Linked DNA regions of Homo sapiens: region 2 is linked to region 1. The links come from fine-mapping of genetic effects on gene expression. A gene starts in region 1. The other region holds a variant in brackets. All regions are shown on one strand. Distances are from middle to middle.

Region 1 (4,253 bases):
TCCAAGCTCACACAATTCTTAAGTGTTACAACCCTGGCACTGTGGATCCAGAGCACAAGCTCTCAACCATACGAGGACTAAGCTCTAATTTTTTATCTTACCCAAATTCCTTTCTAAGGGGTCTGGAGAGTCATGCCCTACAAACCATAAATTCTCATCAGATGGGTTTTATTTAACCCTGTATATCGTGACTTACTTTCCAATCTGACTCTGGCCTAACAAGGAAGAAAATAAAAATGTTTTACCCCAAAATATATTTCCTTGTCGTACCTTAAAACTCCCCTGCAAAGTCTCTTGCAGGAAAAATCTGCATTTGGTGAGAATTCCCATCTCCCCTTGTTTTCCCTCCTTCCTTCCCAGATCCAGGAGATAATCAACTAAGAGCCAGGCACCCTTTTAAGTCCAATATAAAACAATTTACAACCTGCTCTCTCTAAAGTCTATCTAAGAGCTTCCTCTGCACAATAAAACTTGGTCTCCACAATCCTTTATCTCTAGCCTGAACATTCCTTTTTATGGATCCCAGGTCTTTAGATAACCTCAACCAGATAACGTTTACATTTACCGATTGAGTTGCCCCGCCTTTCTAAACTAAACCAATGTATTTCTTAAATGTATTTGATGTCTCACGCCTTCCTAAAATAGATAAAACCAAGCTGTACCCCAATTTCCTTGGGCACATGTTCTCAGGACCTCCTGAGGACTGTCACTGGCCATGGTCACTTGAATCTGGCTCAAAATAAATCTCTTCAAATATTTTTCAGAGTTTGATTCTTTTCATCAACCCATATCTATACCTTTTTACACCAAAAACATGTCTTTGCAAAATTACAGTTATTGGGAATAAGGCTTTTAACCTAATCTGGGGACTATCAAATATACTAATAAATATTTTTCTTAAAAAAATTCTTTGTTTAAACTGCCAGATTCCAACTTCCAGAAAAATTCCAACAGAAATGCAACCGAGGGTCTAGAATTACTATCCTAAATCTCCGAAAATGTACAGGGGGTGGCGGGCGGGGCAGGGACGGCTCTAGGTGAGCAGGAAAAAGCTTGGAACTCAGTCTTCCAATGGCGAAAGGGAACGTGCTCCTGCTGGGCGGGACGGCGGACGGCTGGCGGCGGCGCGGCCTCCAATTCTCGCCAACGCGCCCCGCACCCCCGTGCACTGGCGGGCCCTCCCCTCGGGCGTTGCCTCCCACCCACGCCCGGCGGCACCGCACCCCGAGGCGCTTCACGTCACGGAGCTGCTAGGAGACGGGCGGGGCTCCGGTTCCGGGTAGAGGCCTGGGACACGGGGAACTGTAAGGATGGGAGGAAGGCCGCGCAGGGGCACCAGTTCTGCCGCCGCGGCCTAGCGCCCCAGGTCCCGGAGAAGGGGCACCAGGGCGGCCAGGGGCCCAAGCTTCCGGGGCACGCTCACCCGCGCAGGACTGAGGCCGCGTCCGCTCCCGCTCCCGCTCGGGCCGTCTCCCCCTTCCAGGCTCCAGGCCAGGCTTCCGCCCGACAAGCCCTGACCCGCTCGTCAGGACTGCGGCCCGGGGTTGGTGGTGCGGAGCGGAGCGGAGCGGAGCGTAGAGTAGAATCCACTTCCCCGGGTTTTGGGAGGGGGCCGCAGCCCGCTTTCCGGGCGGCGGGGAGGCGGGGCCACCGCGGGGGCGGAGCTCGGCTGGGAGCCGGCAGTGGCTTGGGAGGGAGGGAGGGAGAAGGAGAGGGGCGGGAAGGCTCCTCGCGTTTTCCACGCCCCCGCCCAGCTCTGGGCTGGTGGTAAATCTCGGAACTGGTCCGGGCTGGGCGAGTTCTGGACGGAGGGGCACGTTTGGGAATCCTCTTGGAAGAATTTACGTAATCGAATGGGCTGGGACTGGTGGAAAAGAGTTGGACCGTCCGGAAAGAAGCAGGAGGGCGGCGCGGGGGCCTGGCACCCTTAGAAAGTGGGAAGTGTGAGTGTAAAAGGGAGGGGCACTTCTGCCCGTTGGGCCCAAAAACCCTTTTCTGGCTTTAGCTAGTAGAGCCACTCAAAATTTAAACGGAGTCAGCTTGATGTGGCATATATGATAAGCTGGATAATATTTCCTGCACCACCGCACCCCTCCCCCCACCCCAACACCAACAAGAAAATAACACAAGTCACGGTTCTTGTTCCTTGTGGGCTGACATTTCCCTGTTTTGCCAACCTCTGGAGCCACGTGTCCCAAGCAGCTTGTAGTTGAGAAGTGATGGGGGAGAGGAGACAGCACGGGAGAGGAAGGAGGGAAGCCAGCTTATATTCAGGTGCCTTAAGTATTTAAAAATATTTTCAGTGTAATAGTCGATGCATTCAAAAGAGCATATTTACCAAATATGTAAAATTTAAAGTATGCTAATGAAACTATCACTCCACCACGTTATCAGTATTTAGCATGTATCTATGCATCTCCAGGATTCTACTCCTGGCCTCTTAGCTCACCACCACTATCTTCAGTTTTGTCCCTCTTTGCCATTTTTAGTGGTTTTATCATATTTGGATGCATTCCTGTGTATTGGTGTATTTTTCTTCTTTTTGAGCTTTATAAAAATACATATAGCCTGGAATTCGCTTTTTATCACTCAACATTTGTTTTTTTGGTTCATCCAAGTTGTTACGTGTAGTAACAGAACATTTATTTCTTACTGCCTAGTCAAAAGGAAGTTTTCTCCTGTCAGGAATGTATTCAATACTGTAGCGGATAGGATTATAAATGCACTTTAAGTATTTTCTTTATTGATGGGAACCACACAGACTAAATGTATCAGACTTCCCAAGTTCGTAGGTCACATACCTATAACAGAACTCTTTTCCTGGGTTTTGTGACATTTCTAATTGTTGTAATTTCTTTTGCCATTATAAAAATTAGTCACTTTTGAACCTAATTTGTATTCATCATTCTGAATCTTTTTCTTTAAAAGCCTCCTCTTTTCCAATTATATAAGCTCATACCCCATAAAACCTGAATCTGCCCCTAGTAATTACTAATAAGGCTAGTAGGAGCATTCTTGTTCACCTTCTGTGCATGCGCTGGACTCTAATTTGAACCTAGGATTAGCACTGCGGCATCAGAGGCTATGGGGGCTGTTCAGCTTTCAAAGATAAAGCAGAAATGTTTTCAAAGTGGTTGTACCAATCTATACTGCCACCAGTACCGACCACAATTCTCTCTAAATCCTCGTTATTTTCACACTTCTTACTTTTTGCTAGTCTACCCAGAATAAATACCATGTTTTTGTCTTAATTTGCATTCCGTAATTACTGATAAGGCTGAGCACTTTGAAATATGTTATTCATTCATGTTTTCTCTTCCTCTTCTAAGGATGTGTGTGTGTGTACATATATAAATGTATATATAATGTATATATGTATATATAATGAAACATTCTTTTGTTAATTGTAGGTGTTGCAGATATCTTCTCCCTGTTTATAGTGTGTTTTCAAATAAAAAAATTTTTTGACTTATTTTGAAAAAATCAACCTTATCAAAAAGTTTCAGAATTAATGAACTCCTGTATACCCTTCACATAAGTTCACAGTTTGCTATATTTGCTATATTAGTGTGTAGGAGAGATTATATATATAAAATATGTATACTATAGATATATATTTTTTTCTGAACCATTTAGGAGTAAGTTGTAGCATGTGTCTCCAAAGACAATGATATTCTCTTTTATACTCACAGAAAAATGTTCCAGTTGAGGTTGTTTGTTTTTTGAGACAAGGTCTCACTCTGTTACCCAGGCTGGAGTGCAGTGGTGCGATCTCGGCTCATTGCAACCACCTCCCGGGCTCAAGTGAGGCTCCCACCTCAGCATCCCGAGTAGCTAGGACTACAGGCACACCCCACCTGTTAGAGAGAATTTTTTTGTTGTTAGAGATGGGGTTTTGCCATGTTGCCCACGGTGGTCTCCAACTGCTAGGCTCAAGCTATCCACTTGCCTTGGCCTCCGAAAGTGCTGGGATTACAGGTATGAGCCACTGGGCCTGGCTCAAATTTAGGTAGTTTAACATTGATGAAGTAAGAGTAGCTAGGACTACAGGCACACCCCACCTGTTAGAGAGAATTTTTTTGTTGTTAGAGATGGGGTTTTGCCATGTTGCCCACGGGGGTCTCCAACTGCTAGGCTCAAGCTATCCACCTGCCTTGGCCTCCGAAAGTGCTGGGATTACAGGTATGAGCCACTGGGCCTGGCTCAAATTTAGGTAGTTTAACATTGATGAAGTACGAGTAGCTAACATGCAG
Region 2 (4,529 bases), 27 kb before region 1:
GTTTTACTGGAAAATATGACAGGTCGTGGATCCAGCTTAGATTTATTAAATTAATCAGTGAGTCACAGTTTAAATATGTGGCAATGATCTTTGTAAAGATGTTATGAAACCAAAAAAACTAAAAAAAAAAAAAAGAACCCACTTTGACTTGTTGAATAAAAAGGTGATTTAAAAAACGTGCTTGGGCCTGGGCGTGGTGGCTCCCAGCACTTTGGGAGGCCAAGATGGGCAGATCACCTGAGGCCTGGAGTTTGAGACCAGCCTGACCAACATGGTGAAACCTTGTCTCTACTAAAAATACAAAAATTAGGCTGGGTGTGGTGGCTCACGCCTGTAATCCCAGCACCATGGGAGGCCAAGGTGGGCGGATCACCTGAGGTCCAGAGTTTGAGACCAGCCTGGCCAACATGGTGAAACCTCATTTCTACTAAAAATACAAAAATTAGGCTGTGTGTGGTGGCTCAGGCCTGTAATCCCAGCACTTTGGGAGGTCGAGGTGGGTGGATCACTAGGTCAAGAGATGGAGACCATCCTGGCCAACATGGTGAAACCCAGTCTCTACTAAAAATACAAAAATTAGCTGGGCGTGGTGGTGTACAGCTGTAGTCCCAGCTACTCAGGAGGCTGAGGCAGGAGAATCACTTGAACCTGGGAGGTGGAGGTTGCAGTGAGCCAAGATAACGCTGCTGCACTCCAGCCTGGACAGCAGAGTGAGACTCCATCTCAAAATAATAATAAAAAAATAAATAAAATAAAAATGTGCTTGGTATTAGAAATACTAATAGAATGGCATTAAAAGTATCTTATAAAGTGGCACTGAATATTCTAGAATCTAAAAGCCACCCCTTAAGGTGTTTGCCATATAAAAGATGTTTGCTTCAATCTGGCAATAAAGCAACCAATTCAGTATTTTTATAATATAGTTACTGTAAAACAAATGTCTGAGAGTGTATGTGATTATTAGTTTTTTTAGCTAATTAAAAATTTAAACTGTATGGTAATTCTCACAAAAATCTATTATTTAAAATTTTATAATATAGTACATTAGTGTCCTTTCTGGGGAAGGATGGTCTCTTATTCAGAGAGTAAGTCCTTCTCTCTTGTTTAGTACTACATGTTTTTTCTTTCATGAACTAATGATAGGTGGTAGCTTTTTAAAAAGAAGATCTTTAATTGGGAAAAAAATACTGGCAACACTGGGACCAAATTTTTTTAAAAGTCTAATGTTCTGGTCTCTAAAATACATAATTGAGGAAACCACTGCATTGCTGCACCCCAGACAACAGAAGAGCAGACATGTGAGACAAGGAAGTTGCCAAAGGAAAGATCTTAAGGAATGAGAAGCAGAAGTCAAGATTCAGAGAGGCAGGAAGAACCAGTAACAGGAGTCTGAAAATTGTGTGGCGAGAGGGAAGTAAAGGGAAGGGCGCTGATAGCCGGCTTCTCCCCTATTGGGTATTTGACATATGCAACTGCGCTTAACTCTCATAATAAGCCTGTGAGTTAGGGGCTCTTTCCTCCACCTCTAACTCATCACCTGGCCTTAAGAAAGTGTGGGTTTCAAGAAGGGTGGCCCACAATGACCGACGCAATAAAAAAGTTTAAAGTGAGAGCTGGCAGAACATGTGGTTTAAGAAGGTCAACAGAGACCACGGGAAGATCATGTATGTACAGTGGTGGGAAGAAGCCAGACTGCCAGCAAATTAAGTAAACCAGTGGGGTTATACTATAGCTAATATTTTTTTGCATTACTACAGTCTCTCAAATAATATTATTTTTGTTAAAATAATAGTTTCCTTTCCAGAACTTTGGCAGGCAGAGGCAGGAGGATCATTTGAGGCCAGGAGTTTGAGACCAGCCTGAGC[AAC/A]ATAGTGAGACAACGCCTGTGGTCCCAGCTACTTGGGAGGCTGAGGTGGGAGGATTGTTGGAGCCTGGGAGGTTAAGGCTGTAGTGAGCCATGATCATGCCACTGCACTCCAGTATAGGGTGACAGGGTGAGATGCTATCTCAAAAAAACAAAACAAAACTACATATCCTGTAAATGCTGTTTTTCTGGCCATGCCACTTTTATTTATAAACAAGTAGGCCAGGCGTGGTGGCTCATGCCTGTAATCCCAGCACTTTAGGAGGCCGAGGCAGGCGGATCACAAAGTCAGGAGATTGAGACCATCCTGGCTAACACAGTGAAACCCCATCTCTACTAAAAATACAAAAAATTAGCCGGGCGTGGTGGCAGGCGCCTGTAGTTCCAGCTACTTGGGAGGCTGAGGAAAGGGAATGGCATGAACCCAGGAGGCAGAGCTTGCAGTGAGCCGAGATCGTGCCACTGCACTCCAGCCTGGGCGACAGAGCGAGACTCTGTCTCAAAACAAAAACAAAAACAAAAACAAACAAAAAACCTATTAATTGAATTAGCAGGGCAACATTCATTCAATAACACAATGACATTATTTTGATAAGTAGCCTATCTTATTTTTAAAACAGCATTAACCAAGCAGAAGGTAAAACAACTGAGAATGAAAGTAGACATTTCATATTTATCTTTCAAAAGTGGTTCTGAAAATTTCTTCCAGTTTCTATCATTTACATTTTTCCTAATTCTCATTTATTCAACAGTAATTTAAGTGCCAATGTGCTTGTGGAACTGTGGGGGAACCAAGTAAAACAATCACTGATCCGAGTCAGAGTCTTTGTGGAGGTTTCTGGTTCTGACAGTAGCTCTGAGGACTGTTTATTTTAAAAAGAAAAAAGAAACTTCATCCAGAAAAGAAAACACTGTCTTTTATTTAATAATTCATTTTCTGATGTTTTTAATTTATAAGAATTAAGGGAAATAAATACAATATAGTTATATAAATTTTATTAAATTAAAAATATCTTAAAATTTTTAAAATTCATGTACATTTCCATTTATGCAAACCATAATTTTTTGCTGACTATATACAATAAAAAAAAATATTCAAGTGGCAGAGAAAATCATTTCTGAGAATTACTTTTATCATGTTTTCTGATAATATCCATAAGATTAGCTCCTGTAACCAGATCATTCTGTGTCTGTTTATCTTTCTGTTGTTCCTTTCTCTTCTGGTCATGAAGGTATGGGGAATTTAATAACTGAGGGGGAAGAATGGATCCTGTGGGCTTTACTCGTTTTGCAATATCCCAGAAGAGTCTTTTTGAATTATTATTGATGAAAGTAATCGCTGTTCCATTTTGACCTAATCTTCCTACTCTTCCAATCTGAAATAAAATGCAAAGAACATTTTCAAGATGTCCATGTAAAATCTTAGTGTCTTTTGAAAGAAAATGAATAATATTACTTAAAGTAGCATTACTGGCTGGGTGCAGTGGCTCACGCCTGTAACCCCAGCACTTTGGGAGCTGAGGCAGGTGGATCACCTGAGGTCAGGAGTTTGAGACCAGCCTGGCCAACGTGGCAAAATCCTGTCTCTACTAAAAACACAAAAATTAGCCAGGCATGGTGGCAAACACCTGTAAATTCTAGCTACTTGGGAGGCTGAGGCAAAAGAATCGCTTGAACCCAGGAGGCGGAGCTTGCAATGAGCTGAGATCGTGCCACTGCACTCCAGCCTGGGTGGCAGAAAAAGACTCCATCTCAAAAAAAAAAAAAAAAAAAAAAGGAGCTTTACTAAGATTAACCTTCATCCAGACAGCATTTTTTGAATTATGCATCTCAATATATCTGTGAAATCAATTTAGTAGGCCTCCACCAGCATATTTTTAATGGAACAGACCAAACAGAAAATAAGAGAGTGATCACATAAAATAAAAGTAAGTATCATTTGTGAAACTTGTGTTTTAGTTATACCTGTATGGGTGGTGTTGGGGGTAATGACATAAAGATGTTTCTTATTGTGGGTGGGTTAAGGTCAAAAAATTCTGAAAGCCCCTGCATTAAGAGCAAGAGGACTATTTACTTCCAAGGCTACTTAAGAGGCCTTGAAATGTGAGATTTATACTAAATCATCTTTGCATAAAGTTATTTGTCTTTTTTTTTTGAGGCGGAGTCTCACTCTGTTGCCCAGGCTGGAGCGCAATGGTGCAATGTCGGCTCACTGCAACCTCCGCCTCCTGGGTTCAAGCAATTCTCTGCCTCAGCTTCCCAAGTAGCTGGGATTACAGGCACCCGCCACCATATCTGGATAATTTTTTGTATTTTTAGTAGAGATGGGGTTTCACCATCTTGACCAGGCTGGTCTTAAACTCCTGACCTTGTGATCTACCTGCCTCAGCCTCCCAAAGTGCTAGGATTACAGGCCCGGCTAGTTATTTCTCATGTTGAGAGAATTAAATGGACACAAATTTATGGAGTATCAATAAGGCACAAAACCTACTTGTCTCCAAATAGATAATGAAAATATACTAAGAAACTCTTCAAAAGAGGGGGAAAATACACAATCATGGTCAATTTCTGCTCCTTAACTGAAATGTAAAACTTAAAGTCTATATTCAGAAATATTTAAATGAGTAGACAGTTTCTGCTAATACAGAGGGCATTTTTAACACTG

The links. PIP is the estimated chance that this variant, and not a neighbour inherited with it, causes the effect.
Region 2: its variant is the best candidate, but not a certain one, in a credible set for the expression of DDX59 in whole blood (INTERVAL, PIP 0.70).

What each region holds. Positions count from the first base shown.
Region 1 is chr1:200,668,344-200,672,596 of GRCh38, forward strand. It overlaps DDX59 (DEAD-box helicase 59), which reads right to left and starts at 1,564. Exons shown (of 8, transcript NM_001031725.6): 1 at 1,424-1,564. It overlaps DDX59-AS1 (DDX59 antisense RNA 1), which reads left to right and starts at 1,164. Exons shown (of 3, transcript NR_110787.1): 1 at 1,164-1,279. RefSeq lists a silencer at 978-1,717.
Region 2 is chr1:200,641,278-200,645,806 of GRCh38, forward strand. DDX59 (DEAD-box helicase 59) reads right to left here. Exons shown (of 8, transcript NM_001031725.6): 8 at 2,760-3,240. The coding sequence ends at 2,977. Among named protein-coding and RNA genes, the nearest start is that of KIF14, 23 kb to the left of the region's middle. The variant AAC/A (reference allele first, on the strand shown) is at 1,866.